Linked DNA regions of Homo sapiens. The protein of the gene in region 1 purifies or fractionates together with the protein of each later gene. This does not show direct contact. Each region holds a gene or a part of one and is shown on either strand. Other genes may lie near its edges. The genes, in order: MFAP4, KCNAB2, TLE3 and TLE4.

The links.
Region 2: the proteins of MFAP4 (region 1) and KCNAB2 purify together in Homo sapiens (co-immunoprecipitation; 2 studies listed by BioGRID and IntAct, with this or other methods). This does not show direct contact.
Region 3: the proteins of MFAP4 (region 1) and TLE3 purify together in Homo sapiens (co-immunoprecipitation; 2 studies listed by BioGRID and IntAct, with this or other methods). This does not show direct contact.
Region 4: the proteins of MFAP4 (region 1) and TLE4 purify together in Homo sapiens (co-immunoprecipitation; 2 studies listed by BioGRID and IntAct, with this or other methods). This does not show direct contact.

The regions. Positions count from the first base shown.
Region 1 is NC_000017.11:19,384,191-19,391,620, forward strand, and holds the start of MFAP4 (microfibril-associated glycoprotein 4 isoform 2 precursor), read right to left. Parts: upstream 3,001-7,430; 5' UTR 2,966-3,000; coding exon 2,960-2,965; exon of another isoform or gene 2,929-2,959; coding exon of another isoform or gene 2,851-2,928; intron 2,649-2,850; coding exon 2,570-2,648; intron 2,275-2,569; coding exon 2,120-2,274; intron 1,265-2,119; coding exon 1,168-1,264; intron 1,092-1,167; coding exon 909-1,091; intron 520-908; coding exon 272-519; 3' UTR 1-271. UniProt on the Homo sapiens protein: Could be involved in calcium-dependent cell adhesion or intercellular interactions. May contribute to the elastic fiber assembly and/or maintenance.
Region 2 is NC_000001.11:6,083,874-6,090,896, reverse strand, and holds part of KCNAB2 (voltage-gated potassium channel subunit beta-2), read right to left. Parts: intron 5,694-7,023; coding exon 5,649-5,693; intron 5,643-5,648; exon of another isoform or gene 5,067-5,642; intron 4,740-5,066; exon of another isoform or gene 4,526-4,739; intron 3,431-4,525; coding exon 3,386-3,430; intron 1,890-3,385; coding exon 1,846-1,889; intron 509-1,845; coding exon 422-508; intron 1-421.
Region 3 is NC_000015.10:70,059,916-70,066,938, forward strand, and holds part of TLE3 (transducin-like enhancer protein 3), read right to left. Parts: intron 6,304-7,023; coding exon 6,099-6,303; intron 4,556-6,098; coding exon 4,539-4,555; intron 735-4,538; coding exon 615-734; intron 1-614. UniProt on the Homo sapiens protein: Transcriptional corepressor that binds to a number of transcription factors. Inhibits the transcriptional activation mediated by CTNNB1 and TCF family members in Wnt signaling.
Region 4 is NC_000009.12:79,707,952-79,714,974, forward strand, and holds part of TLE4 (transducin-like enhancer protein 4), read left to right. Parts: intron 1-166; coding exon 167-299; intron 300-641; coding exon 642-835; intron 836-1,671; coding exon 1,672-1,748; intron 1,749-7,023. UniProt on the Homo sapiens protein: Transcriptional corepressor that binds to a number of transcription factors. Inhibits the transcriptional activation mediated by PAX5, and by CTNNB1 and TCF family members in Wnt signaling.

The DNA.
Region 1 (7,430 bases):
AGCCAGGTCCAGGCTAGAACCATGTGCCTCTCGGAAGAGGCCTGGGGAACTGCTGGCAGTGTAACTTCAGGTGTAGGGGAGCCGGGTCTGGCTTAGGAATGGATGCCCTGGGTGTGTGACAGGGATGTGGCATGGCTGAGAGCCACAAGGCCCCCTTGTAAGGAGTTGGTGCTCGGGAATCAGCAGAAGCATGCATCAGGGGCAGCAGAGGGAGCACTCATGGAGACCATGGGTGTCCAGGGGAGGAAAGGTGCCTGAGGGGGCCAGCCCTTCAGGCCCGGCGGATTTTCATCTCAGTGCGTTTGAGGGAGTAGTAGAAGCCCTTCCACTGGGCCCAGTTGATGCCATTGGCATAAGAGAGGTGGGAGCCACCTAGGTAGAAGCCATTGAGGTTGGCAAAGTGGCAGCTGCGGAACCAGAAGGCTCCTGAGGAGAGAGCTGCGCAGTTCTGCACAAAGAGGTCCTGGTCCCGGTCGAAGGTAGAGAACTTCTGGCCACTGTGGTAGGACAGGGAGTCACCTGGCAGAGGAGAGAAGGGTTGGGGCTGCTGAGGCAGGGAACTGAGCCCCGAGCTGGCCGGGAGAGGGTGACAATGACGACTGTGAGAGATATCACGTGGCAGCCTGGCGGGATGGGGGCACCCTCCCTGAGCCAGATGTTGGGTTGATGTGCTTCTGCAATGAAGAGAAACAGCTGCTCCACCACAGAGTTGCCTGGAGCAGGGCCAGGATGGCTGCTCCCCAGGGCTGAGGCCCAAGCTGGTTTGAGCTTGTTTGGAGCCAGCTGTGGCCCTTCCAGATCCAGAAGGGTTGAAGGAGGGGCCTGAAGGAGGTTGGGGCTGACTGGGCAGGGCCAGCCCTGCCTTCTTTCCCCTCACAGCCCCTCCCAAAGCTAACAGCGGGTTATACCTGCCCCGCCATCCTCAAAGCCTGCCACAAAGAGGGTGTAGCCATCCTCCTCTGCGCTGACCGCGTTCGGGGAGATGGAGAAGTCAGCGTACTTGGCATAGGCCGTGTTGTTCTCAAAGTCCTCCAAGTCCACTCGCAGCTCATACTTCTGCTTCAGTGTCAGGAGGTGCATGTTCTGCAGCCCTGGGGAGGAGGGGCAGCTGGTCAACAAGGACCTGGCCCTGGGGCAGCCCCTCAGCCCACCTGGTCCCTGCCTTACCCAGCCAGTACTCTCCATCAGCACGGCCGAAGCCCAGCTTGTAGTCATTCCAGCCGCGGAAGAAACTTACTGAGCCATTGAATCTCTTCTGGAAAACCTGGAGCAGAGAAGATGAGACTGGATCATCAAGGGTCCAATGGGCAAGGTTCTGGTCCTGCCCTGCCCACCTCAAGCATGGACCCTGTGATGCTGTGGCCAGTTTGTTAAAGGACTGGGTTGGGGGTGGGGAGGGTGGTGGGAGTGGGGTTGCTAAAACAACGTCCACATTGGCACCAGGCCCCCTGTGGAGCAGTTGCCAGCACCCACCTGGGCTCTTCATACCCAGTTTCGTATAGAGGCAGGAAAGAGGCTAAGAGGGAGGCGTTCTAGAGTTCGAGTGCCTAGCTGTGGGATCTGGGCAAGTTACTTCACCTCTCTGGGCTTTAGTTCCTCACTACTTCCCAGGATTATTGTGAGGCTTATGTGCATTAACCTACCTCAGCTGGGCGCGGTGGCTCACGCCTGTTATCTCAGCACTTTGGGAGGCTGAGGCGGGCGGATCACCTGAGGTCAGGAGTTCAAGGCCAGCTTGGCCAACATGGTGAAACCTCATCTCTACTAAAAATAAAAAAATTAGCTGGGCATGGTGGCACATGCCTGTAATCCCAGCTACTCGGGAGCCTGAGGCAGGAGAATCTTTTGAACCTGGGAGGTGGAGTTTCCAGCAGTGAGCTGAGATGGAGCCACTGCACTCAAGCCTGGATGACAGAGTGAGGCTCCGCCTCAAAACAAACAAACAAACACCTACCTCAGGCACTTAGAATTAAGCGTTGGCAGCTGCTCAGAAGCTGTGCTGTGGGTATCATTATCCCCATTTTAAAGATGAAGAAACTGAGGTTCGCATATGTGAAGCCCAGGGTCACAGGGCTGGGATTAGAACCAGCTCTGGCCTCTGTTCCCTCCTCCCACTCACCGTCCACTTCCCGCCCTCGGTGGTCATGTCACAGAAGACGGGCACAGGCACACTGGGGCCCGAGGGGTAGATGAGGTACACGCCGTCTGACTGGTAGCCCTGGGCATAGATGTCGTCACAGTCCAGGGGTTGCTGAAGGCAAAACCTCTCCAGAGCTGGGGGTAGGGACATGGGGACAGTGAGGAGAGTGGGACTATGGCATCACTGACACCTCAGCACCCCAAGGTTTGCCTCAGTCCCTGGGGCTGGGGGACTTTGACACAAGGAGTCATGGAAGATTTCTTCAAGGGAGATGAGCAATGCTTATGTCATCCATCTGCCCCATTTTGTAAAGGAGGAACCTGAGTCCTGCAGAGCTGGGGCTCGGCCCTGACAGTCTGTTCTGACAGTCCAGCCTCTTCTTGCACAACCTGTGGGCCAGGCCGCGTCTGTGAGTGTGGGGCTGCTTACCATCTCCTCGGATCCCGGAGACCTGGGGGGCACACGGGGGCGTGGAGAGAAGCAGCAGCAGCGGCAGGGCCAGGAGTGCCTGGCGATGGGCAGACAGGGTCAGCACAGCCCCTTCCCAGCTCCAGAGATCCCCTGTTCTCTTTGCATTTGCCCCCACCATGCATGCACATACTGCCCTTGCCTGAATCCCTCTCCTGCTATTTGGCCCCTCTTCCCTGCCCCCCCACCCCGCCCGCCAAGTAACCCCACTCTCTGGGACGCTGTGTACCCTCATAGCTTACGAGTTTCAAGAGAACTCCTTGTGCCTTCATAGTGCCCTCTGTGGCCAGGGGCCTCTGGAGTGGGCTCAGTTCCCCCATGCTATGAGTCCCCCGACCCTGGGCCCCGTACCTTCATGCTGTCAGTTCTGCTCAGAGTGGCTGGGTGTCTGCGGCCCCAGACTGCAACCGCCCAGAGTTATGCGCTGGGCCCCCGCCAGCCGCCCCAGCCCCGCCCCCCTTCCCGTAGCTGCAGAACCCCCCTCTCCCCACCCCAGACAACCAGCATCAGTTTACACTATCAGGGGGCTGGGAGGTGGGGCTGGAGCCAGGGGACCACCTGTGTCTCATTAGTCCTGTCGGGCAAAGTACTGCAGACGTTAACTCCCTGCTGGCTCCAACTGTTCCCTGGATCCCACTCCATCCGCTATCCGCCATCTGCCACCCACCCTGCTAGACCTGTGGGCCCCCTGGCGCCCCCAGGCAGCCCCAGCCCGCCGCAGCCTGCCCCCTACTTCCTGATGGGCCCCCCTGCAGATGTCTGTTTATTCTTTCCCCTCCTTCCCTGGCCTGTGTTTCATCAGCCATTGAGGGGGAGGGCTGAGGGAGAGTGGGGGTGTCATATGCCTGGCTTCTGGGGACGGGAGGCCTGCTCTGGGGGAGCAGAAGGCTGAGGGGACAGTTTCAGAGCTCCTGATGTGGGAGCCTGGCTGGGGCTGGTGGGGGGACAGAGGCAGCAGTTTCTTGGCAGGCCTGGGACATTTCTGAGCCATGAGCACAAGGCTGCTGGCGTCCAACTGCTCTGTCTGCCCCAGCTCAGGCCAGGGCCCCTCTCCAGTCCCCCTCCCCAGCCCCCCTCACTCTGGCCACCTCAGGCCCACTCTTTTCCCCTCCCACAGTTCCCTGGCCCATCTGGCTCACATGCAATAGGTATGGGACCTCTTTTGTTTCTCCTCACTCCACCCCTCCTTTCTTCTTCCAAACCCTTCACTTTGGCTCCCACACCTCCCAGATTCATCTGAATCTCCCTACTTCTGGGCTCTCTCCTCCTATCCTTGGCACACTACCAGGAGAGTTGTTCTAGATGGCCTCTCAGATTATGTCACCCTGCTTAAAGCCTCATGGCTCCCTATTGCCTCAGGGCTGAGGCTAGGTTTCTCACCTTGGACATGAAAGGAATTTCAAGTCTGTCTCTGGCCTACCTTGAGGACCTTGTCCCTTATTGCTGTGACTCATAAACTACAGTGCAGCCACTCCAGACTTTTCACCATGGAGGTCCCCACTCTTTTGTGCTGCTCCTTGTGGTGCCCGCTCATCTGCCTCCTTTTGTTGGCCATAAGGGCCAGTGAGCAGGGTGTGTGTCTCATTTCTGCATGCTCAGTGCCCATCACAGAGCCTGGCACAGAGTAGGCTTGATATGTACATGCACAGTCACTTACGTATTTATATCTATATATAGATAAGATACTAGAGTCAGGGCCTTGCCCTGTTGCCCAAGTGCAATCATAGCTCACTGCAGCCTCAAGCTCCTGGGCTCAAGTGATCCTCCCACCTCAGCCTCCTAAGGAGCTAGGACTACAGGTGTGCCACCACACCCAGCTAATTTTTTAATTTTTTTGTAGAGATGGGGGGGGTCTCCCTATGTTGCCCAGGCTGGTCTTGAACTGGCCTCAAATGTTCTTCCCACCTTAGTCTCCCAAGAAGCTGGGACTACAGGGCCAGCACACCTGGCTCACAGATATCTTTTGAGCGCTGTGTGCTATAGGCTATGCTGGCTGCTGAGGATACAGTATCTGCCCCACAAGGAGTGGCAAGCACAGGTTTTGGACAGTGAATTGCAAATGTAAGGTGTATTACAAAAGGACATTTGTGTTGAATGGATGAACAGATGAAATATTCAAAGGCAAAGTGATGAGGCAGCTCTGGCTTAGGTCCCATCTCTCCACTCCTGAGTCAATAGATAAGCCCCTTGGCAAAGCCCCAGTTGGCCTCCCTGACTTGGTTCTGTGATTGCCTCTATTCATAGTTGTGTCTTGTGTCAGGCTACCTCAGTTCAAATCTAGATTCTGTTGCCTGTTAGCTGGGTGACCTTGCAAAAATTACCTAGTCTCTCTGTGCCTTGGTTTCCTCCTCTGTAAAATGAGGATAGTCATAGTATCTACTTCATAGGGGTGTGGTAAGGATTAAGTAATACATATCAAGTTCCTAAAACAGTGCCTACAAATGGCAGCTATTTAGTAAATATTAGCTATCGTCATCGTCATCATAAACATCATGATTCTCATATGAATGGGTTGTCTTCAACACAGCTTGTATGCTTGCCTGTGGAAGAGACAGTTGGCTGGCTCTCAATACTCGTTCTTCCCTTAGTCCTCAGTAGTAAGATCCTGATTTTTATCTGGGCTCATTGTCCAGCCTCCCTTGTAGCTAGGTGAGGTCACACATCTGAATTTTGGCCAACAAGATGCCAACAGGTATGTTGTAAAGGTAGGTGGCTTGTCCCTCTTCATCCTGCCCTCTGTCCTGCTGGATGTGATGGCTGGAGCTCTAGCTGCCACCTTGGACAGTGGGGATGAGGAAGATGAGGCCTCATCAGGGAATGGCAGAGGAGGAACTGGCAAAGCCTCTCACGACTTTGTGGAGTCGGTACAAAAACAGCCCTGGACTGCCCTCCTCTAGGCCTTTTTTATGCAGGAGAGAAAGAAACTTCTATGTATTTTAAGTGTCTGTTGTTTTTTTTTCTGTTACACACAGCTGAATCTAATCCTGATCTCTTCTTTCAGCAAATGCCAGCTAATTTTAACACAAGTCTATAAAAGGGAAAATAATGAAAAAAAATCAGTTATCAAAACAAATACTAAAATGGTCCAAAGTCAAGTATTGAAGACTTTTGGAGAATACCACTAATGAGCAAACATAGAAACTCCTTCTCCCCCTAGAAAAGAGAGAATTAAGATACGAGGTATCAATTACATTTTGCCAATTAGTTTTTACTTAAAAAATGCAATAATGTGTGTGGGTGCAGCAAAGCAGGCACTGTGTTCACTGGATGTGGCTGGAAATTAGTTTAACTTTTGTGGTAAAGAAATTTGGTAATAACATGCCCAGAGTCGGTAATCCTTCTAAGGTGTTGTCTGGAGGAAATACTCTGACATGTTGAAGAGGCTACAGATACAGCTGGGGGACATTACTTGTTGGCTGCCCAGCATGGGAAACCTCTTCCCACATTTGGGGTGTTCCTCTCCTAACTAGAATGCTGGGTGTTCACATTTCCAGGGTTCCTTGCAGTTTGATTGAAGGCACATGGCCTTGGTTTAGCTGATAAAATGCACGGTCCTGGGCTTCATTTTGGGAGAAAGTGATTTGAGAAGCAGAAGCAGGAAGAATCCATTCCTGGGGCGATGGTGACCCCAGTGCTGTCTGGGTCCTAGTTTCTCTGGGTGGTTGGTGGTGGCTTGGCAAGCACAGTGCTGAGTGACACTGGCTTAGGCTTAGGCTGCAAAGCCCTGAGCTTGGTTCTCAGCCCTCCCAGTGATCAGTTTGCTCTGCCTGCTGATGTTTTTGAAAGAGACCCCCAACTCACATGCATAAAGATGTTTGTGTCTAGATTCTGTCATTGCCAACAACAGACACTAACTCTGACTTTGTTGGGAGGCTTTGCTGGGAGTCTAGACTAGGGGTGGGTGGGAGCTGAGGCTGCCCTGGGCTCTGGAAAGCAGGCCCTCAGTGGGGGTCCTGTGGTGGGACAATGTTGGGTTGATGCTGCTCAATGCACATGGCTATGGCTTTGTCTGTCTGCCAGATTCCAGGAGTGAGGAGGGTCCATCCCATTGGCCTTGCTTGGGTAATTTTATGCATCCCTTGGCAAGGGGAGTGCAGTTGGACACCTTTCATTTGCCTCCCCACCTTTCTCCCTACTGCCCTGGGCCCCGGAAGGCCAGCCTCACCCTCTGGTTTCTGATTGGGTCCAGCCAATGAGGAGCTTATCAGGATTCAGCGGGAAGGAGAATGAAGTAGGAATATTCATTCCCCTCCTTGTAGAGTCCCCACACACTGGTTTTGTTTCTCAGCCAACAGTCTCAAGTCCTGCCAGGTAGCCATCTCCATACAGCCTCCTGACTCACTGTGGGTGACTCCTTCCTCCTCTGCCCGCTTCAGGTCTAGGGGTGTTGACAGCCCTGGTGTTACCAGCCCAGAGATAGGGGGCCATCTCCTGCTTACACCTCAGCAAATAGTCCTTTTATTAAATGCTACTCAAATTGTCCTAACCTGAGTGTTACTTGATGGAAACTGGACTGATTCAGGGAGAGAGGCATCCCTGACTATAATACAGAAAACGAGTGTGAGACTAGGAGGAGAAGTGGCTGCAAGTGTACAAAAAAGTCTCCACTAAATACCCTCTGTAATAGTCATTGTAATGTATGCTGTAATATTGTCAAACCCAGATGGCTCAGTAAAAACAGATGACCCCCTGTGCTTCCTCGATGTCATTTTGGTAAGACATTTGCTCAAGTTGGTATGGCTTCCGCCCCTGGGTTAGGCCTGTGCTGGTTGTTCTCTGCGTTCCCTGATCCACCCACATCCTCCTCTGTGCCTGGTGTGGG
Region 2 (7,023 bases), on another chromosome or scaffold:
TTTATCCCCCAGAGCAAAAAAGTCCCCCCAAGCTTCCCAATGGATGGTGATTGGAGAGAACACCGCAGTTGGAGTCCCCACACTGCGACTTCACTTAGCTGCAAAATAGCAGCCGCAGAGGGGAGGGGACAGTTCCACTGCGGCTCTGACTCGGAGGGCGGATCGGCCTGGGTCCAAAGCCAGGACAGGGACTCAGCCTGGAGGTGCCAGGTGCACCTGGCGAGGGGTCTGCAGCCAGAGGCTGAGTTCACCCCCTACTGAGGGGAGGCCTGCCCCCTCGCCCCCCACCCTGGACCCGGCCTCCTCTCACGGCTCACCCGGGTGCCCAGCAGGGCCCATGCTGGCGGCCTCTACAACCCCAGGTTCAGACCCTTCAGACCCCGCCCAGGCCTAACCGGTGGCGCCGCCGCAGACCACCTACCTTCCATCGGGGTGTTGGGGTCCGGGCGGTTGGCAAACACCACATCCACGTACTCCAGCTGCAGTCGCTCCAGGGAAGCTTTCAGACCTGGGGGAGGACCAGGTGGGGGGGCGTCACTGCTGTGGCTCCATCTCCACAGGCACCTGGGCCCATCCATGCCCGGCTCAGGGAACAAGAGATGGAGAAGAGGCCTCTGGCATCTGGAAGCTTCCAGAAGCTGATGGAGGTCGTGAAATGCCACGGCAGAGGTGGGGGCACATCCCACAGGGAGTGGGGGGATCTTCCCTTCAGGAGGACATCGGGGGACCACAGGCCACGTGTCCTTGACTAAATGAAGGGGAAGCCCCTCCTCCCTCAGACAATATACCCTCCTCTGAGGCCACTGTGTATTACAACAGGGAGATGACTTTATCTATCACATGTGGAGGGAGGGCTACACCTGCTGCCCGTCCCATCAAAGGCAATAGTGTCTATGGTCGGGCGTGGTGGCCCATGCCTGTAATCCCAGCACTCTGGGGGGCCAAGGCGGGCGCATCACTTGAGGGCCAGGAGTTTGAGACCAGCCTGGCCAACATAGTGAAACCCTGTGTCTACTAAAAATACAAAAAAAATTAACCAGATGTGGTGGTGGGCACCTGTAATCCCAGCTACTCAGGAGGCTGAGGCAGGAGAATTGCTTGAACCCAGGAGGTGGGGGTTGCAGTGAGCCAAGATCGTGCCGCTGCACTCCAGCCTGGGCAACAAGAGCAAAACTCCATCTCAAAAACAAAAACAATGGCAATAGTGTCTAAAACGCCCAAGCCACCCGCTGGTGCTTAGAGCAGCTCAGGACACACAGCCGGCAGAGTGAAACGCTGGGTTGGGGTGGGGAGGATGGGAGTGGGTGGCTTGCCCCGCCAGGTGATTTTCAATGGAATGATCTATTACCTCGAAGAAAATGAACACGGACAGGAAAGGCATGAAGACAATAAAGATACAGCAAGAGCCAGACACCCCGGTGCCTTGCTCCGGTGCCTGCGAGTGCTGAGCCCCGGGCTGTGTGGCACCTTCTCCTGGGCGCTGCAGGCATCCCAGCCACCCTCGCCGGGTGCGCTCTTACTGTCCCTATTGCACAGATACTGTGGCAGAGGCATGGGGCAGGGTGCCCCTGCTGAAGACCCACTCAGCCAGTGTGGGGCCAAACCTGGATTGAAACCCAGGCTGGTCTGTGGTCTGTGCTCAGCCACCGGGCTGCCCTCGTTCTCTGCAGCGTCCCGCTGTGCTACCTGGGTGGAAGGAGAAGGTCAGGCCAGAGCACCGGGTGCCCCGGGATTGGGCCCTCAGTGGGTTAACTGGGGGGGTCGGGCCCTGTGCTGCCATCACTTTGGCCTCCGAGGATGATCCCACAGGTATGGGGGCCCTGAGGTGCCCGAGCGCGTCCTCACCTTCGATTATGTGCTTCCTGGACAGGCCCCGCTCCGTCTCCGCCCTGGAAAACAGGCCGACCGCGTGTGATGTCACCAGCGGTTTTGGCACCCTGGCCCCTCCCAAAAAACGTTTACGATGCAATGTTAGACGCAAAAACAGGGTCAGCAAATGCCGTGTGGAGTCGGATTCCACTTTGGGGGTAGGGACCCGAGGCTACAGGGCTGAACTCCCAGAGGCCCAGGGAGAGGCCTGGTCACAGGGCTCAGAGGGGAGGGGGGCAGCAGCAGGGGGTGGGGGGCTTTGATTTTCAACCTAACCCGTCTGTTTGATTTGGACTTATTATTATTATTATTATTATTATTATTTTTTAAATTAAGAACACATCAGGCTGGGCACAGTGGCTCACGCCTGTAATCCCAGCACTTTGGGAGGCTAAGGCAGGAGGATCACTTGAGCCCAGGAGTTCAAGACCAGCCTGGGCAACATAGTGAGACCCCATATCTTAAAAAAGGACAAATTAATGCCAGGCGTGGTGGCTCACGCCTGCAATCCTAGTGCTTTGGGAAGCTGAGGTGGGCAGATTACTTGAACTCAGGAGTTTGAGACCAGGCTGGACAACATGATGAAACCCCATCTCTACAAAATACAAAAATAAAAATATAAATAAAAATAAAAAAATTAGCTGGGCATGGTGGCATGTGCCTGTAGAACCAGCTACTTGAGGCAGGAAGGTCACTTGAACCCAGGAGGTTGAGGCTGCAGTGAGCTGGGACTACGCCACTGTACTCCAGCCTGGGTGACAAAGTGAGACCCTGTCTCAAAAAAAAAAAAAAAAAGAGAGAGAGAGAAAAAGGACAAATTAGTCAGGCATGGTGGCTCATCCCTGTAGGCTGAGGTGGGAGGCTCGCTCGAGCCCAGGAGTTTGAAGCTACAGTGAGCTGTGATTGTGGCACTGCGCTCCAACCTGGATTACAAAGCGAGACCCTGTCTCAAAAAAATAAAAAATAAAAACAAAATAAAAATAAAAAAAAGAATGAATGAATGAATCGTAGTTATAATTCCTATGAGCCCAAGTGTGTCCAGCCCAGAAACTATGGAGCTAGACACTTGGAGACCTGCAGGGGTGACAGGCGGCCCAGGGAATTTGGAGTGCTTTGGGGGTTTGGGCAGTTCACAAATTTTCTGTTTTCTCTATAATTTTTATGATGTTACCATAGTGACCAGGAAAAAATAATCCATGTGAGTAAAAAGGAAAGTTAAGCGAGGTTTTTGTAAAAGGCAAACTCGGCCACAGCTTCTTTTCTGGATTTGACGTCCCTTAACAGGGACAGGCACCAGGCATAGCTGATGGCTGCAGAAACACCAGCTCTGCCCCTGCTGGGGACAGGAAATGGCACTGGGCCGGGGCCTGTCCAGGACAGACCCCGACCACTCTCCCTTCTCAAGGAGGACTGTCCTCCCGCCACCCCAGGAGCCTTCTAGGTCAGGGGTCTCTGGGGAGCACGGGGCCGTGGCTGCTGGGCCGGGGCTGGAAGCATCGCCAGCTGTTGCACCTACTTTCCGCCCCAGAAGATCTTGGTGGTGATGACGAGGCTGGACCGCCTGTGGAACAGAAGAGAAAGAAGGGGTGTGATAAGCCCGGCCCCTGGGGGGTCCTCCTTCATCCCCGACGTCCTCATCTCTCACACAGAGGTCCTGAAAGCCCTCCCACCCAGGAGCCTGGGGCATGAAATGGGCACTTCTCCATCATATGATGTGTACCACGTGCCCAGCCGGGGTGCGTGGGCTCCTCATGGAGCCAGGAGGCAGCCACCGAGGCAGTAACTGTGAGTCAGGCAGTGGGAGTTGGACAGTGGGGGGCCTAGTGTGACCGGAGTCCGGAGGAGATGCCTTCCGCCCAGGATGTGGGAGGGGGGCCTGGCTCAGGGACTATGAGGGGTGCATGGATTTGATCCAGGTAGAGGAAGTGGCAAGAGCCAAGGCTGGAGGAGGCCGGGTGTGGGCCAGGGGGCAGGGGCGGGCTCTGGGGGGATCTGGCAGGAGTTGAGGATGGAAAGATGTAGGTGGGAGGCAGGCAGGGAAGCTCTCTGCAACGTTCCCTACAGAATGTGACACGTGTTGCAGAAAATCTGTGTGGGACGGCCTGGTCGGGGTAACTTGAGGGGCACCAAGGGAGGGAGGGGAGGCATAAGGACGGCCTGGTCGGGGTAACTTGGGGGGCACCAAAGGAGGGAGGGGAGGCATAGGGAGCCCAAGTGTGGCCAGGCCAGTGGGGTTCTGGGTTTGAGTAGCTGAGGCAGAGAATTCTGAGGATTTGGGCTTGAGCAGCGCAAAGGGAAGTAATTCGTTCTTCTGCTCTAAGTCCACACGAGACAAATGCCCATACCAGTGGCTTTGTCCTGGTGGGATGGGGGATAATGATGGCCCCTCCCAGCCACGTTTGACCTTGACCCCTCCCAGAGGAGGGAGTACTTCCCACCCAGGGGGTGACAATGACCTCCTGGTGCCCCATGGCTGAGCTTCTTTCCCACCCGGGTCCCGGGCTGCTCAGGGAAGCAGCTCACGAGGCTGGAGTAGGAGGCCTCCTCTGCCCCGAAGCATCGGCCACAGAGCTCTGGCAGAGGCAGCGTCACCTCCAGGAAGGGGGATCACCCCACACCACCTCCATGCACATTCGCCAAAGACGTGATCAGGGGATTTGCTAATACGTGCAATTTCGTTTAATTACAGGGTGAGGAGGAATTTGTTTTGGGATCAGAGTTGCCAAAAAACAAATTTGATGGGACAAGAGGAAGGGGTGTCAGGAATCCATGGGGGAGGGGGCGGGGGCTCCCCTTGGCACTGGGATTCTGAGTGGCATTTCGAGGGGAGGGAGGAGGGAGGCCCAACTTTATAACTGCTTCTGATGTTTCTGAAAATAAAGACGCATTTATTAAGGAACAGGGCCCCGGGGCTTGTCAGCACCTTGAGATAAAGCTGTGTCCAGGGGTCTGGGGAGCCTCAAAATGTAGGCAAGTGCTCAGCCCAGTTGGTCCCAAGGTGGGTGAGGACCTTGGCCTGGGAAGGGCCCATAGGCTCCTGGGAGAGAAGGGTGGATGGCCCCCGATCTGCGACCTTTGGGCTCCATCACACCCGGGGACCGCTCCCCGGTCTGTGCTGGAGGGGACCACTTCCCAGAGGAGTGTGACACGTCCCGCCCTGAGCTGGGTGGGTGATTTACAGACTTGGGGCCACTGACCCTCAGGATAGCCCTGCCGGAACGGTCCCACACACACCCTCTTACAGATGGGAACAGTGAGCTCCGGAGAGGCTGAGACGCCGCGAAGATCCTGTGGACAAGGTGCAGGGTGGGATCCAACCCCAGGCCCCCAAGCTCTCTGAGCCACTCCCTTCTCTGGCCCCCTGGCTCCCCTGACCCTAAGTGCTCCAGCCAAAGAAGTGGAAGTGCTTTGCACCCACATCTTCTGTAGCAGCACGCCTTTGCTGTACCCAGGCCCGTTCTCACGCCAAGCTCTTTTTGGCCTGACACTTTGCAAGCAGGGACCCTGGTGCTCTGGGTCTCTGTGGATGAGTTGGGACAGAGGCGGAGTGGGCAGGCTAGGGTGGGGGTGGACAGTGTATTCGGCCTCCCTTCAACTTCTTTCTCAAGCAGAGTCACCTCCTACTCTTGGAGAACTGAATTTTCCTCTCCACTTCCCAGCAAGAAAGATGTGGGGACTTGCGGGCCTTACGACACTGCACGACAGGCCGACGAGGCTGACCCTGGGATAGTTCGCCCGCACCCACCCCAGGGACAGGCCGCAGAGAGCAGGGCCGTTACCTCCATCCTTTCTTCTTAATGATGTTTCCCAGTACCACTTCAGCCCTGCAAAACAAGACACCGAGCTCTCATCACAGCCAAACAGAAAAATCAAACCCAGACCCACTGTGGCCACTGGCCACTTGGTTCCCTCTGTGAAAATGTCACTGGGGCCAGAGAGCCAGGCTGTTAACACCCGCCTTGGCTCAGTAGCTCATTCCACAGACAGGGTTGGCCCGAGGGAGTGGGAGCAGCTGTGTTATTGCCCCCCACTAGGATGGCTGTGGCATGTTCCCCTGCAGACACGTGTCTAAGCAGTGGCGGCCCCAGCTCTCACACAGAAGGAAGGAGCTGCTGTCGAGCATCCCATTTCCTAGTCAGCTGAAAATTCACCAGGGAAAATGCCTGGCAACATTAGGTGGGCAAAATTTCCAGAGAAGTATCTTGTTTTTTTTTTTTTGAAATGGAGTCTCGCTCTATCAATGGAATGTAGTGGCGAGATCTCGGCTCTCTGCAACCTCTGCCTCCTGGGTTCAAGCAGTTCTCCTGCCTCAGCCTCCCAAGTAGCTGGGACTACAGGCACCTGCCACCACGCCCGGCTAATTTTTGTATTTTTAGTAGAGACGGGGTTTCACTATGTTGGCCAGGCTGGTCTCGAACTCCTCATCTCGAGTGATCCGCCCACTGTGGCCTCCCAAAGTGCTGGGATTCCAGGCGTGAGCCACCGCGCCGGGACAAGTATCTTTTTTCAAAGGTAAATTATTCATCAAGTCACGCTCTGTTTTGAGAGACAATCAACATGTACTCAGGGTCAAGGGCTGGATTTCCAGCAGATCTGTGCATGCTTGTGTATATGTGTGTGTATACATGTGTGCATGTGTGTGGGTGCACGTGTCCCTCTCATTTCCTGCACTGAACGGCAGAGTCAGATGCTAGGCGGACCACTGTCTGTCCTGTTTGGCATCACTGGGTCCTGCACCAAACCCAGGCCAGCTGGGGGCATGGGCGGCCGTCCCAGCCTTGCCTGGCACTGCAGCACTGGATTAACTTTGAAGAACTTTCTGCTTGTAGCAAAATGTTTCTGAGCAAAACAACAGACGGAGAATGATCCATACTCTGTGCTACATTCCAATTATAAAAGCGCCTGAGTCATCCACTCAGAAATAATGGGCTCTGATTTGCAAGCTGTTTAGCATGCGCTCTGAATGCTCCTCATTTATGGTCAAGACACACAGAAAATTCACTCAGCCCTAGGCCTCTTCCTTTTATTCCTTGGTCCCTGATTTGGGGATCAGGAAAGGAGGAGGAAGAGAGAAAAGCTAGCAGCGATCTCTGGGGCAGAGGAGCAGCAGACAGTGAGTTATCTAAGCCTGTGGCTTGTGGCTCTGGCTGTGAT
Region 3 (7,023 bases), on another chromosome or scaffold:
GGTGCTCAATGTGTCCAAAGCCACACAGCAGCCATGTGGCTGAAGAGGGCTGGGTGCAAGACCGCTGAGGCCCTGCACCATATCCTCCCCTTCCCTCTGTCCCAGCTCTCAGCCCTGCACAGCCTGACACAGGGGAAACACAACAGCCATGCTTCCACTAGGGTCTCACGTGCCGGGGGCATCCCATTAAAAGGCTAGTAAAAGCCATGACTGGGTGGCCAAGTGAGTGCATGCCTCAGGCCAACTGAGAGGACTATAGGGTCCACATTTTGGGGGTCACTGGGAGCAGCCCCTTAGAGCCAAGTGGGATTCCGGCAGCACCATGACAGCAGCATGGGGTTGTTGGCCTGTCTGTGGGAAGAGACCCCATGGAGGCTAGGACGACCTCCCCATCCACCTCCGCCCCACAGTGGCTCGCATGCTCATAGCGTGTGTGAACTTCACCCTAGCCCTGTTCCCACCCTGCTCTCCTCAATAGGGTCCCCTATCGCCAACCTGTGCTTCTCTGACTCACTGCCAACCACAAGAAGACCCTGGCCACAGCTTGGGCCCTGCAGACACCCCCTGCCCTACCCAACAGAAACCCCAGTGGTGCCATGGCGCCTTGGACGTACGTATCGGCTCAAGCTGTCCTTCTCCTCCGCCTTCCGCTTCTTGGCTTCCATGCTGTAGTCCGCAGAGCCCCGGTGCTTCTCACTGGCCCGGAGGCTTTCCGAGGGTGACACAGAGTTATTCTGGAAGGAAAAAGAGGGTTCGGGGTTAAAACTTTCTGCTGCGTGTAACAATTCACACATCCGCACACAGCTAAGTGCAGGTGACACGGAGGTCAGGGGAGGGAAGAGAAGCTGAACTCCTCTCTGCCCTGCAGATCGTGGCTCCATCAGAGCCTTGCCAGGGAAGCCTTCCCCACTCCCCTGAGACTGAGTCCCCGGGGAGATGCCCTGGGCGCATCCCCAATTCTCTTTTGCAGCTCTGCACTGCTATTAAATAATTAACCCTGCAGTAAGCCGTCTGCCTTCTGGCCTGTGGGACTACGCTCTGTGAGGGCGAGGGTCACCTGGGTCTCATTCACCACCCATCTCGCGCTTGCCACACTCATTTGCTCAAAGGAGGGATAAGTGGAATTTGCACTGAGTCTTGTAAGATGGATCTGAGCTGACAGGCAGGGGCCATGAGCAATACTTCATTTGCTGAGCCCGACAGGAATGGGGAGATTGATAGGGAAGGAGGGCGTCAGGCAGCCACCAACTTCCCAGTGGAGATGAGCAGCCAAGCGTTCTGTGTGAACACCCCCGCCTCCACGGTGAGGCTGTCAGCAACTCTGGAGAAACACCAGGGTTGTAAAAAAAACAAAAATGCCACGTCATGAAGCCTTTCCCTCTGACAGACAGGGAAAGGAGCAAGGGCAGGGACAGTCACTGCCTCTGTAGCCATCACCAAGTGGAGACCCCAAGAGGTTGGTGAATGTGCCCAAGCTCCCCTAGCAGAAGGTGGCACAAAGGGAACCCCAAAATTTCGTGAGTTCTCCCTCAACTATAAAGCAAATGAGGATGAGAAGCCTTTGGGATGGGAGGCCTGGGAAGAGGGAAGATGACGGAGTAGTCCTAGGGGTTGATAGTGGTCAGAAATCACCATGTGGCTGTTACCACCGAGCTGGGGAGCAGGGAGGGAAGTGCAACTGGCAAGGGCACCTGCCAGCAAACCTCTGTGCCCAGAGACTAATATCAGGACCAATGCCCCTCTATGATATTGGTGAGGTTTACTCCTTTCTAAGAGTCCAAACTTTACCTTCACCCACCCACCAATTTCCGAGCAGCTGCCCTGGGTCAGCCCTGGTGCTGCAGGCCAGGAGTGGCAGAATGAATGAGATACAATCCCTGCCCTCCAGGAGCTCATGGTCCAGCTATGATGGAGCTGGAAGAAAAGGACAGGCCATCCCAGGTCCCAGTCCCCATGCAACACAGGAGGTCATATGGAGACCCAGAGGGACATCTGTTCAGAAGAGAAGAGCATCAGAAGGCAAGTGGAATGAGGCTTCCCTTCTCTTCTCCACTTTCCCAGAGGCCAAGCGTGGCTCAGGGGCAAGGGCCACTTGGAGGGAACGGGGCTGGGCAGTATTCGGTGGGAATAGTGCGGCAACCAGCCTCAGAACTTAATTTCCTTTCCTAAGCCGGGTTCTGGGCAGCCCTACCCGGCCAAGTTTCTGCCCGAAGCAAATTAAAATGGCAGAGTTATCAAGCCTTGAAGAAAAAATGGAGGTTATAATGGAACTGCAGCTCAACCTTCCCCACAGCCGTGCAGGAGCGGTGGCGATGCGCGCACAGCCACAATTCAATTAGCTGCTGCAATCGCCGGCAGAAAAATCACCGTCATTTCATTTCATTTCCTCTGACGGTGGTGGCCACCCTGTGCTAAGCAGAAATGCTTCCAGCCCCTCGCACTGGCTGCCCCTTGCAGGCGGGCGGGCAGGGGAGGGGGCGTGCGGCTGCTCGTGTTTCTCCTCGCGACCCGGTGCTCGGCTCGGGAGAACAGCGAGCTCTTTCTTCTCATGCAGTCAGGCTGAAAACCCTCGCCGCTACCGGAGAGTCATGTCAGGCATTTAGCGGCATCGATCCAGCCCGCCTCTGGCTGGCAGGCGGCCAAAAAACTAAGTATTTTTTATTGCTTCGGCTAGGCAAGGAAATATGAATGAAGCTACCACTAATTGGACTCCAGACTAACCCCTCTGGGACAGCTTCCAGCCCGTCCCCCCATCCCCCCTCCCACTCTGACACAGCCCTGTCCTTCCTGCCGTAGGCCTCATCTGTTGACAACCTGGTTTCCAAAGCCTGATTATTTCAGTCTACACCGCCGCTGACACCGTCACCACGCCACATGCCATGCGCACAGCCTCGGCCCTGCCCACTGCTGCCTCTGCCCAGCATCTTGATTCATTCCCACTGGAGTTTCCTGAGGCCCATGTGTGCCATGCATGGACCTCAGCGAGCATGGTAAACAGCCCAGCTCTTGGGGGTTCCCAGGGGGGGTCTTTTAGCAGAAAACTTTCACAGATGGGGCACAAAGCCAGAAGCCAATAGGGATGAGGATGAGGTAAAGACTCATGCTCTTTAGAGAGTGCTGGGCTTCCCACTCCCCCTCCAATTCCACTGAAGTGGGTCCCTGCTAGCCAGGTAATCTGGATCCTCAGTCAGGTTATAAAGGGTCTTCCGAAACAAAGCTGAGAGGTTGGTCAAGCAGGAATTATTCCCATGGTATGGATAAGGAAACTGAGGCTCAGAGAGGCCAAGAGAACTACACAGGGCCTCATAAAGCTGGGACCAGACCTCAGCCTTAAAATGTCCAATCCAGGCCTCCGCCTATCTAGGCAAACTGCCTCTCCGAAAAAATGCCACTGTTAGAGGATCAGTACCGAGGCAGTGAACATGGATTTTCAGCTTCAATGACTCCTCTCTTAGGTACCTAGCCATTCCTCAGCCCAAATGTGGTCCTGGATTTCTGAGCATGTAGGCGGGTCAAGAGGCCACGGACGCCAGCCTCACTGCTAATGGGAGGTTTAAAAAGTCAGCCTGGGTAGGGGGAGGGCCAGGAAGGGAAGGAGGGCTGGATTGGAGAGAGCTGCGCAAGGAAGCTGCTGTCTAGATGGTTAGTTAACTGCCTGACCTTCCAAGTCCTACTTAACACGAGGTAATAACCAAAGCCATCCTAACAGATTAGATGGCCCCAGATACAAGGACAGCGATGAGGAATAAAATAGCTTTGCTAATCGCTGGAGGATTTTTTTTATCCAGACTCCACTGCGCTTATTCAGAAGGCTTATTCACTTGAAACAGAACCTCGGAGCCTCAGTGTGATCAGAAAGATTTACAACAAATCTCAGAGCTGGCAGACACGCAGGCGGCCTGGCCTTAATGCTCGCCTGCTAGCACTTTCTTAAATCGAGTGAAAGCCCAGAGCAGGGAGAAACTGCAGGCGTTTGAAGGGAATGAGGAGGATGCAAGATCATACAGGAGGCATCCTAGCAGGGGGGTGGTAAAAACCTTGGCCCTGAACATGGGACACCTGGGTCCTTAGCCCTGGGTTTAGCCCAGAGACTCCACAAAGCCCCTCGCAATGGAAGATCCAGGGCTGGTCAGCTGACCTCTCAGAGTATCACCTCTCATATGAAACGGAGTTAGAGCTCATTTAGCCCAAGCTCTTCATTTGACAAATGGCAGACCTAAAGCCTGGAGAGAGGAAGGGCTTCCACAACTGAAGGTCACTCTCAACAGGTGACGACAGCAGCTCCCATTTTATGACAGTAGCTACCCCTCACCCTGCCACTGGCTCTGGACTAAGACATCAGCACTGAAGCTCCCAGCTCAGCAAGAGTAAACAAACAACAAAATCCCTAGTTACAACCCACAGAGCAGAAGCGGGAACCCAGAAGCCAGCTTTGGATACCGACTGACTGGTCTCAGGCCCGCGATTCTGGGAGCCCCGAGTCCCACCTCCTCCCAGCACCCAAACACCCCTCCGGGTTCCAGAGTGCCAACACTTACCGCACTGGATTCTCTCTCTTTGGGGAAAGAAGGCCAGGACAGGAGGAAGGTCAGGCACCCCAAAACAAAAAGACAAAAAAGAAAGGAAAAAGGTCAGTCTAAGTCCAGCTGGCTTTTGTGATTTGCTAGTGCACTGGTTTTAAAATGAGCAGAAGGCCTGGATTGCTGTCTCCGTGGATCAGCCAAGGCAGGGCCATTAGGTGGCGTTTCTCGGTTTGGAAATTTGCCACCCAAATTCCAATGCTGCCCCCACCCCTCTAGTCCCCAGGGTGGGCAAGGGAGGCCCAGTCCCCAGGGTGGGGAGGGTAGGCCTTTGACCCAGTTCTCCCTGTCATGCCAGAGGGCACCAAGTTTACTCTTTAGCAGGCTAGGGGTCTTAAGATCACAAGCTTGAGAAGGATCATGCCATATAAAATACCAGTAGGACCTGGGAGTTAAGAACTTTATTGTTAAAAAAAAAAAAAAAAAAAGGAATTTAACAGTGGTTTAATTTTGTTTTTGAAATTAACACCATTCTGTGATTCTTTGTCAGGATGCCCCTAAAAGCTGAAGCCTCTGAAACTGTGCCCAGCTAAGCACTAGCTCCCCAGTTCTCCTGTCTGCTATGGAGAGGCCCCTCTTCCTCTGCCAAAAGGACCATCCTACTGTAAGACAAAAAAATGTAGCCTCCAGTTCCCTGGACCGGCTACCACCCTGTGGCCTGGGCCAAGGCAGGATGGTGACATTCCAGGTCCCTAGTGCTCAGAAGGTGTTGGCTACGTGCCCCAGTAAATACCGTATCTAAGGGCAGAGTGCATTTGGCACCAATTTTTGAAAAGGGCCTCCCAGGGAGCCAGGCTTTTCTCTTTTCTGATCCAATGAACCACTCCTGAGGCCAAGCTCGGTGCAGCTTCATGGGTCCTCATGGTAGGGGCTGCAGAGAGGGTCAGAGAACAAGTTCTGACTCCAAGTCTATGTGATCTCTTGCTGGGGTGTGCACTACCCCCACTTACAGGCAGTCAGCTAACAAACCTTTACCTGAGCACTGACTGTGCACCTTTCCCAGGTTTCTGCATTGGTGAGACATAGATGTAAGGAAAACACCCAAGAACTTGGCACCTGTCCTAGGGAACTAATGATCGTGGTGAGCACAAGACATTTTCCAGGGGTAGGATGTAAGACGACAGTAACAAGGACTCAACTTTGGCATCCCAACTCTTAAACTCTTACAGGAACTTGAAAAAGCCCCTAGTCTGACCAGGAAGGCATCCTGAAGGGTTGGACTGGGGCTGGCCCCTGAAGGACAGGCAAGGGTGTTGTAGGAAGATGGGAGCGAGCTCCAGATGAACAGACAGGGTCTTCAGGACAGAGAATACCAGGTCCACACCAAGGAGTAGGAAAAGGTGCATGGGATGCGGATGGCATTGGCTTCCCTGCACCAGGTATCAACAGATGACTCCAAATCCTTGGTAACTCCTGGTCTTAGGACGACAGCACTTGCTGGGTCCACTCACTGTGAGGCCTATGAGCGCCCATGCCCACCCCTGCCCCGCCCCACCCTCTGCCCCAGCCCAGCCGCACCTCTGTGATCGAGTTCATGGTGGTTCTTCTCATCCTTCACCGTCAGATGGGCCTGGCTGCCCAGGGCGCCCAGTGCCAGCAGCCCGGAGCTGCTCCCTGTCACTGGGGGGATTCCTGGAGGCTGGAGACCTGACGGGTGGGGTGGCAACTGGACCGGGGGGCCGTGTGTGGCATGGGAGAGGTGCTGCGCCTGGAGCTGCTGCTGCTGCAATGAAGTCGGTGGTGAGTACAGCTGAGTTGGGGAGGGCAGGGGAGGCGTGGCCACCTCAGGAGGGAGGGAGGGAGTGGCTCTTCCCATTCCTCTTGCTCCTTCACTGGGTGGGTGGCAGGGGGAAGCACCCCCAAAACCTTTGCCCCCAGCTCAGTTCACATGAATGTCTCGCTGAAGGAAGTCTGTTAATAGACTGTAATGTAAAGATTTATGTCTTCAAGCACCCCCCAACTCCCTGCACCCCCGTTTCACAAATAATTTCTCAATGTTTGTTTCCAAGCCTGAGATAAAGAATGCATGCATTTAAAAAACCGCAGAGTCATGGGGTTCCCTCTGAGTAGAGAGGGATCCATTTTTAAGCTCACAGCCCTGGCAGTGTTTGCTCATGCATACATGCCTTCAGCATTAGCTGCCAGCATCTTCCACCCTGAGGCTGGACCCTGGGGAAGGCTCCTTATTTCTTAGGAACTCCAAGCCTGCCTTACAGAGCAGGGGCAGGGCAGGTCATCACAGCAAAGGCCCCAGAGCCAGATGAGCTGGGGGCCAGTGGAATGAGAGCTAACGTCACCGGACATCAGTGGTGGAAAACGGGGTAACTGGAAGAGTGGAGGCTTTGGAACTAGACAGAACAGGATTGAAATCCCAGCTCTGGCACTTCCTAGCTGTGTGGCCTGGGGCAGGTTACTTCAAGTCCTGGAGCCTCAAATTTCCTTA
Region 4 (7,023 bases), on another chromosome or scaffold:
ACTCTTTTGTTTCTTTGTTAACTTTTCTATTAAAGAAAATCAAGGCCCAAGCTGAAGAACCTCTTCCATTTCTTTTCCTCCTTTCCTTTTCTTTACCTTTTTACTGTTTAACGTCATTGTTAAAACCATGTTCTAATTGCTGGTATATGTCATTTCATCTTGTTAGAATGAAAAATCTACTACTCCCGTCTCAAAGTCCAATACCCCTACTCCACGAACTGATGCGCCCACCCCAGGCAGTAACTCTACTCCCGGATTGAGGCCTGTACCTGGAAAACCACCAGGAGTTGACCCTTTGGGTTAGTAAGAAAAAAGTTTTTTCTATATTTTTATGCTCGTTTTTAAGAATTTAAAGCAATTTAAGGAGTACAGTACATTAAAAGTGCTAATGACCAGCATTGAATGGCTGTTAGACAAAGTTACTTAACCTGAACCGAGCACCTGGGACCAACCTTGTCTGGCACATGGTAAGTGTTCAATAGAACAAAGTGAATGAGTGAATTCTGAAGGCTTGAATGACTTTTGAGAATATTAAAATAAGCTCATTTGAACCATAGATTCTATTTTGTGACATGTTTACAAATGTCTTCACTGTTGTTTCCTGTGTTCTTCATTTTTCTTCCATCCATTTTGGTTTGCAGCCTCAAGCCTAAGGACCCCAATGGCAGTACCTTGTCCATATCCAACTCCATTTGGGATTGTGCCCCATGCTGGAATGAACGGAGAGCTGACCAGCCCCGGAGCGGCCTACGCTGGGCTCCACAACATCTCCCCTCAGATGAGCGCAGCTGCTGCCGCCGCCGCTGCTGCTGCTGCCTATGGGAGATCACCAGTGGTGCGTTTGTGAGCTTCACAAATAATATTTTAGCACACGGAGGATTGTCATGCTTGATTGATTGCGACAGGGTCTCGCTCTGTCACCCAGCCTGGAGTGCAGTGGCATGATCTTGGCTCACTGCAGCCTCTGCCTCCTGGGCTTAAGCGATCCTCCCACCTCAGCCTCTCAAGTAGCTCGAAAAAACAGCATGCGCCACCATGCCCAGCTAATTTTTAAAATTTTCTGTAGAGGCAGGGTTTCACCATGTTGCCCAGTCTGGTCTCGAACTCCTGGCCTCATATGATCTGCCTGCCACAGCCTCCCAAATTGCTAGGATTACAAGCATGAGTCACCATGCCTGGCCTATCTATTTTTTAATGTAATTTATATAATCTAAGGTATTTAGAGATCTGTGGGTATTTATAAGTTAAGCTACATGTGATTATAATCTTGAGGTCCATTTTCTTTTGTAAGGTGAAGAAGTTTCTTTTTTATTTTATATGTCTTTTTAAAAGAATACTAATTTTAAATTTTCCAAAATGATACTAATTTTGGAAACTTCAAACCTACAGAATTAGATCACATAGTATAATGAATGTAATGACTCTTTGGTTCTACCATGAGCTTCAATAATCATTAGTATAATTTTTTAATCTGTGTTCCACCCCCAAGTATGTTACCATTAAATCCTAAACATTGGTTATCATTTCACCAATAAATACTTCTGTATATATCTCTAAAACCTTATTTTTAAAGGATCTATTCTCCCAGGTTTTAGAATAGATTTTGAGAAGGATAAAACAAGTCAAATGTAACTGTGCTTATTTCTGTTGTTTGCTTGGGAAAAATTCTAGGTGGGATTTGATCCACACCATCACATGCGTGTGCCAGCAATACCTCCAAACCTGACAGGCATTCCAGGAGGAAAACCGTGAGTACCTTTTTGCCTCTGTGCTCATTGTGTGTCAAACTCAGGTCCCTTGCTGGCCCCGTAGACTTAGAATACCACTAGACAGTGTTGGGGGAGTTCCCATGACTTGTATTTTTTTACCTTGCAAGGTATTTTTCATTTTCTCTTAGCACAAGAAGAGAAGTAATGAAGTGGGGTTTTGCATTGTAAAATTTTGAGCTTTAATATGTAAATGCAAATTGCAGAGGCATCTCCAGTAGTCAGGTCTTCTCTACATCTGTTGCAGATTTCAAGGCAATTCTTTGTTCCAAAAGTCTGATTATTATGTGCAAACCTGAATGTTCAAAATTTGAATATGTTGGGAAAAGACATGCCAAACCTCAAAGGCTGAAAGGAAATAAGGGCACTCTTATGCTTAGTTCTGTTTTCAGAAAAGGTGACTTGCTTAGTTGGCTTCTTATACCGTGCTCTGGGCATCTGGAGCCTCTGTATTCACAGATTCCTTGAGTTAGGAAAGACAAAACACAACACACCAGTTGTTCTAGCCTTCTCTGAACGGATCTCATTCCAAATACTTTATTTTAATCTAATGCACCTTTTTATTACTACCTAATCACAGTTGTCTCTGCTAATTGGCTTCATCTTCCCAGAAACAAAGATTTTACTATAAAGTAGCACTGGCTGTTTCTTTAAAATCCCAGCTGGCTGCTTTCTCTCGCTTCTCCTTTGGGAAGCCTCCCCCGCAGATCCTCCTTGCCTTGTTAGTCACCTGTGTGTGTGCATTTTTCTCATCACTCTTTCTGTGGGCATCCCCTCTGTCACTACACATGCCGTGTATGTGCTGCCTCCCCAGTCTCCAGGGCTATCCAGACCTGACCCTCAGTAGCAGCTCAAGGCGCCTTCTCCCAGAGGCTTCCCTGGTAGCTTGCCTGCCTTGAGGTATTTTGTCCTTACTGTCCTTCTTCCTGCAAAACTTTCTGTGGCTTAGTGTCTCATTTAGTTATCTAAGATGTCATTATGTCAGAGCGTTCTGCCCTGACAACCCTATTATCCCTCTTTCCCTTCCTCCCTATTCTTTCCTCTTCTACTACCTTTTTAATGCTTTTTTATAGCCATTATCTGCCTCTCCCTCTTGACTATAAGTTCCATGAAAACAGAACAGAACTTTCTGCTATTCAGTTATAGAAGCAGTCTCACTGCCTAGAATGGTACCTGGTTCATAGTGGTGCTCACGGTATGGATTTATTCAGGGAATGGATATGTGCTGATTTCTTTCTTCTCGGACCTCCCATTGCTTGTTTATTCACTCCCACACACTCGGGCACTTAGTTTTCACCCTGGTGTTAATTGCGTGCCCTCTTCTCCCCACATCCCTTCAGTGTTGCCTAACCTAGACCCTTTCTTTACTTTCCATCTGAGGAATCCAAATCTCAGTTCTTCCTTTTGTAGCATATTAATACTTCTCTACAGACTCTATCCTAACCTTCCTTTGTTGTATCAAGCACAGTGCTGGCTCCACAGCCAAGTTGCTTGGTAAATATTTGGCTGATTAATAGGGGAGAAAAGACAAATTAGAGTTCCTCAAGAGTTGAAGGTATAAATATCAATTACCATAAAATTCTGTGTACCTGTGTGTGTTTTGCAAATAGTTGTTGACTAACAAGTCTTATTGACCAAGAAACTTTGATGTATTTGAAGGTGAAAGTTGGGTCTATTTCAAGCAATGCTAAATAACAAGGTTATACAATTAATCAAATAATGACTCAGATACCTACAAGTTCCATATGAACTTGTGGGGAAAGTGGAAGGGTTCCTTTAGGGAAGAAGTACTATCCCTTTTTTTTGGTTACTTCTTAGGTAACCAACAGTTGTACCCAGAGCTACAGCATAACCACTAGAGCAAATGAGATGATGCTTCTTGCCTCAGCTGCTGCTTCGAGGGGCAAGGGGTGTAAGTGTCTTTAAGGAAACACCTTGGCTAAGGGATTTGGACCAGTTAAACCACTGTGGAATCACAGCTGCTCTGACTCAGATGGTGCTTCTGAGTCTTGGGCTGACTTCCCTTCATCAGTTTTAACTTTCGATGTTATAAAATGTTTAAATGTTTAAGATCCTTTAGGGTGGGTTAATGGATTGGAGGATTGTTGAGAATTTTTGTTTATGAGAGTGACAGAGTCACATCTACTGCAGTTGGCAAATGACACTTTACCAGGAAAATGACACTACTAAAAAGCATGTGGTGCAGTCAACAGAGTATGGTTTTGGGAGTGTGACAGATCCAAGTTTGAATTTAGACTCTGCCAGTTGAACCACTGAGAAGAGTGGCTTTATGCACAATTTCTTTGTGAGCTTCAATCAGCTCATTCATGAATCAGGGATGGCCCCTCCTCAACAAGAAGGATGTGAAGATAGGAAGTAAGATAATATGTTGTGTGTTCATTCAGTGCCACATTTGTTACATGGTGGCTGTTTAGTCAACCCCAGCATTATTTCCCTTTCAGCTTTGTCCCAGCATATTATTCATTTTTCAGCTACTTATGTAGTAGGAGGTACATTGTGTTTTAGGGGCAGAAGTGACCCAAGAAGATGGGTCATTGGTGTGTCTTTATGTAACAGAGCATGAAGACGTATAAAGTTACATTCACTTATATGCATACAGAGATAATATACTTTTATTATAGATTTTTACAGCAGAAATGAATATAACAGTTATGTGGCTCTCCAGATCATAAGATACTGAATTGTGCAATGTTGTCTTGTGCATATTTTTCAAGACAAAACTTTTTTAAGTGTGCTAGAAAATAAAATAAAAAATCACCTAAAGTCTTCCTCCACCATACATACCCACAATGTAACTACCTTTCTCCAGAAAGACTTATAAAAGTTATGTGTCTCTGTTCTAATTATTTCACACAATGAATTGCTAGATATGATCAGAAATTATAATTAAATGCATGTTCCAAATTAATAAAATGGTGTTTATTGTATAATTCACATTGAATCCTCTTGTCTGCTCAGGTGAATTAGCAGAGGTTCTACTTCATATGTAGTTGGAATAACAGCATAGTTTAATTTCAACATAAGCCAAAAATGGCCCTTCTCCTTCACCTGCTACTCAAATGAGACTTCTATGGCTAGTGTATAACTATTTGATTAACATCACGGTACTAATTGTATGAGATGTGACATGTGAACACAGCAAAAATAAAAGATCTCACGTTAGTGGATTATAGGCTGCTCACAATTCAGAAATCTGACTCTTTTGCATTGATTTATTTTTATAAAGCAAGATTTTCAAATGAGAATAATGCCTGATACATAGTAAAAACCTTCAACGAGTATTTGTTGGCTAACTCACTGGTCTGTATGCTACTTAGAACAGAATTTTCTATCGTATTTCAATGTAAAATACAATAACCAGACCTCTCATTGTGACCTCAAGGTCGAAGCCCATCTTGTGACACATTGGAAATGTGGAGAAGGTACTGTGCGCGTGAGAGATGAGCACAGCATAACAGAACTGGGCCTCAGAGAGGAGAATGAGGGGAAGGTGGGAAAGCCAGTGACCTTCTTTAAATATGCTGGGTCTTTGTCAAGATGATAATCCATATATAACAAGTTTGACACACATGTTTTTAAAAAAGCAAATTGCATGTGTCTGGATTGTTTAAAGTGTAGTTATGTCAGAGAGTCCAAGCCTAGCATTTTCTTCAACTGTCTCTTATTCTCATCGCCATGTTTGTTGGAGAGCCACTCTGCTCGTAGCAGCTTAACCTGTGGTGTGTGTGTTCGTGTTGAGAGGAGGTCAGGTCACTCTATTTCTCTGACTCCCTGCACCCTCTCCCTCCAGCCCTGTATTTCTAGTTATTTGTTGGGCATCTTAGCTAGGGATCTTGGGTGTATGTTACTTGCACCACAAATTCATTATATTCAGAAAGTACTTTTGTAAATTAGGTCCTCTTCCCAGTTTGCCCTTTTTTTGTTAACTACAAGTACCATGTTTCTTTTTTCCTGAGCTCAGAAACTCAGTTACTCTAGCTCCTCCTCAGATCTCGTCAATTTAGTCCTACAGGATTTTATATCCATTGTACCTTCTAACTTGTCATCCTTGCCCTTGCCTGGTTCAGGACCCCCAGTACCTCTTACTTAAATTGTTGGAATAATTGTTGTTGTTTGTTGTTGTTGTTGTTGTTGTTGTTGTTTGAGAGAGAGTCTCGGTCTGTCACCCACGCTGGAGTGTAGTGGCTCAATCTCAGCTCACTGCAACCTCTGCCTCCTGGGTTCAAATGATTCACATGCCTCGGCCTCCCAAGTAGCTGGGATTACAGGCACATGCGCCACCACACCTGGCTAATTTTTATGTATTTTTAGTAGACATGAGGTTTCACTGACTGGTCTCCGAACTCCTGACCTCAAGTGATCCATTCCCCTCGGCCTCCCAAAGTGCTGGGATTACAGGCCTGAGCTACCGCGCCCAACAGGAATAATTGTTTTTAATTCCTCCTGTCCATCCTACTCCTTGCTACCAAGTTTATTTTATGAATAGCTTTGCCCAGTAATGGCACACTCCCTTTATCCCTCAAAAATCTCTTCAGTCAATTCTGGGAAGGTCTCAGGCTGGCATTCTGGTCCTTCCCTTTTATAGCATTACATTGATTTTAATTATATAGAGATATAGATCTGGTATGTTTTTTCAGACTATGCTTGGCCAGTTCCTCCATCCACCTACTGTGTAGTTATTATTGAATGAATTCCTGGATTAAAACCAATTCAAGGATTTCCCAGCTCATTTTACCTCATCCTTTTGGAACTTTTGCTCTCTGCTATTCTTGCTATCTGGAATATTTTTTCCATCTTTCTCTTTACTCGATGGTATCTTTTCATTCTTTAAAAACCCATCTCTATTACCATGTCTGTCTCTCATCCAACATAAACTTTCTTTCCTTTTCAAAACACTTCAGAATACTTTCCATTAGAATGTGACCTGATATTGTCATTTCTGTACTTTTCTCTCATCATGCTAACTAGATTGTTAGTCACTTGTGGGCAAGACCAGGTGCATTACCTAGTTTTGTATCCTTAGCATGACGTTTGCGTCAGAGTATATGGATGGGAGGTACTTAACACATTGTGCATTAAATTAGTTAGAAACAGAGTAGCCCTTTGCGCCTCGGTTTCTCTGATTCCTAGCAATGTTGACTTCCCTCATACCTTCCAGGAGTATTTGCTAGTTACAGTCAAAGAGTTTATCGAAATCTGATAATAAGTATGTACTAGAGCTTTATTATTTCCAGTT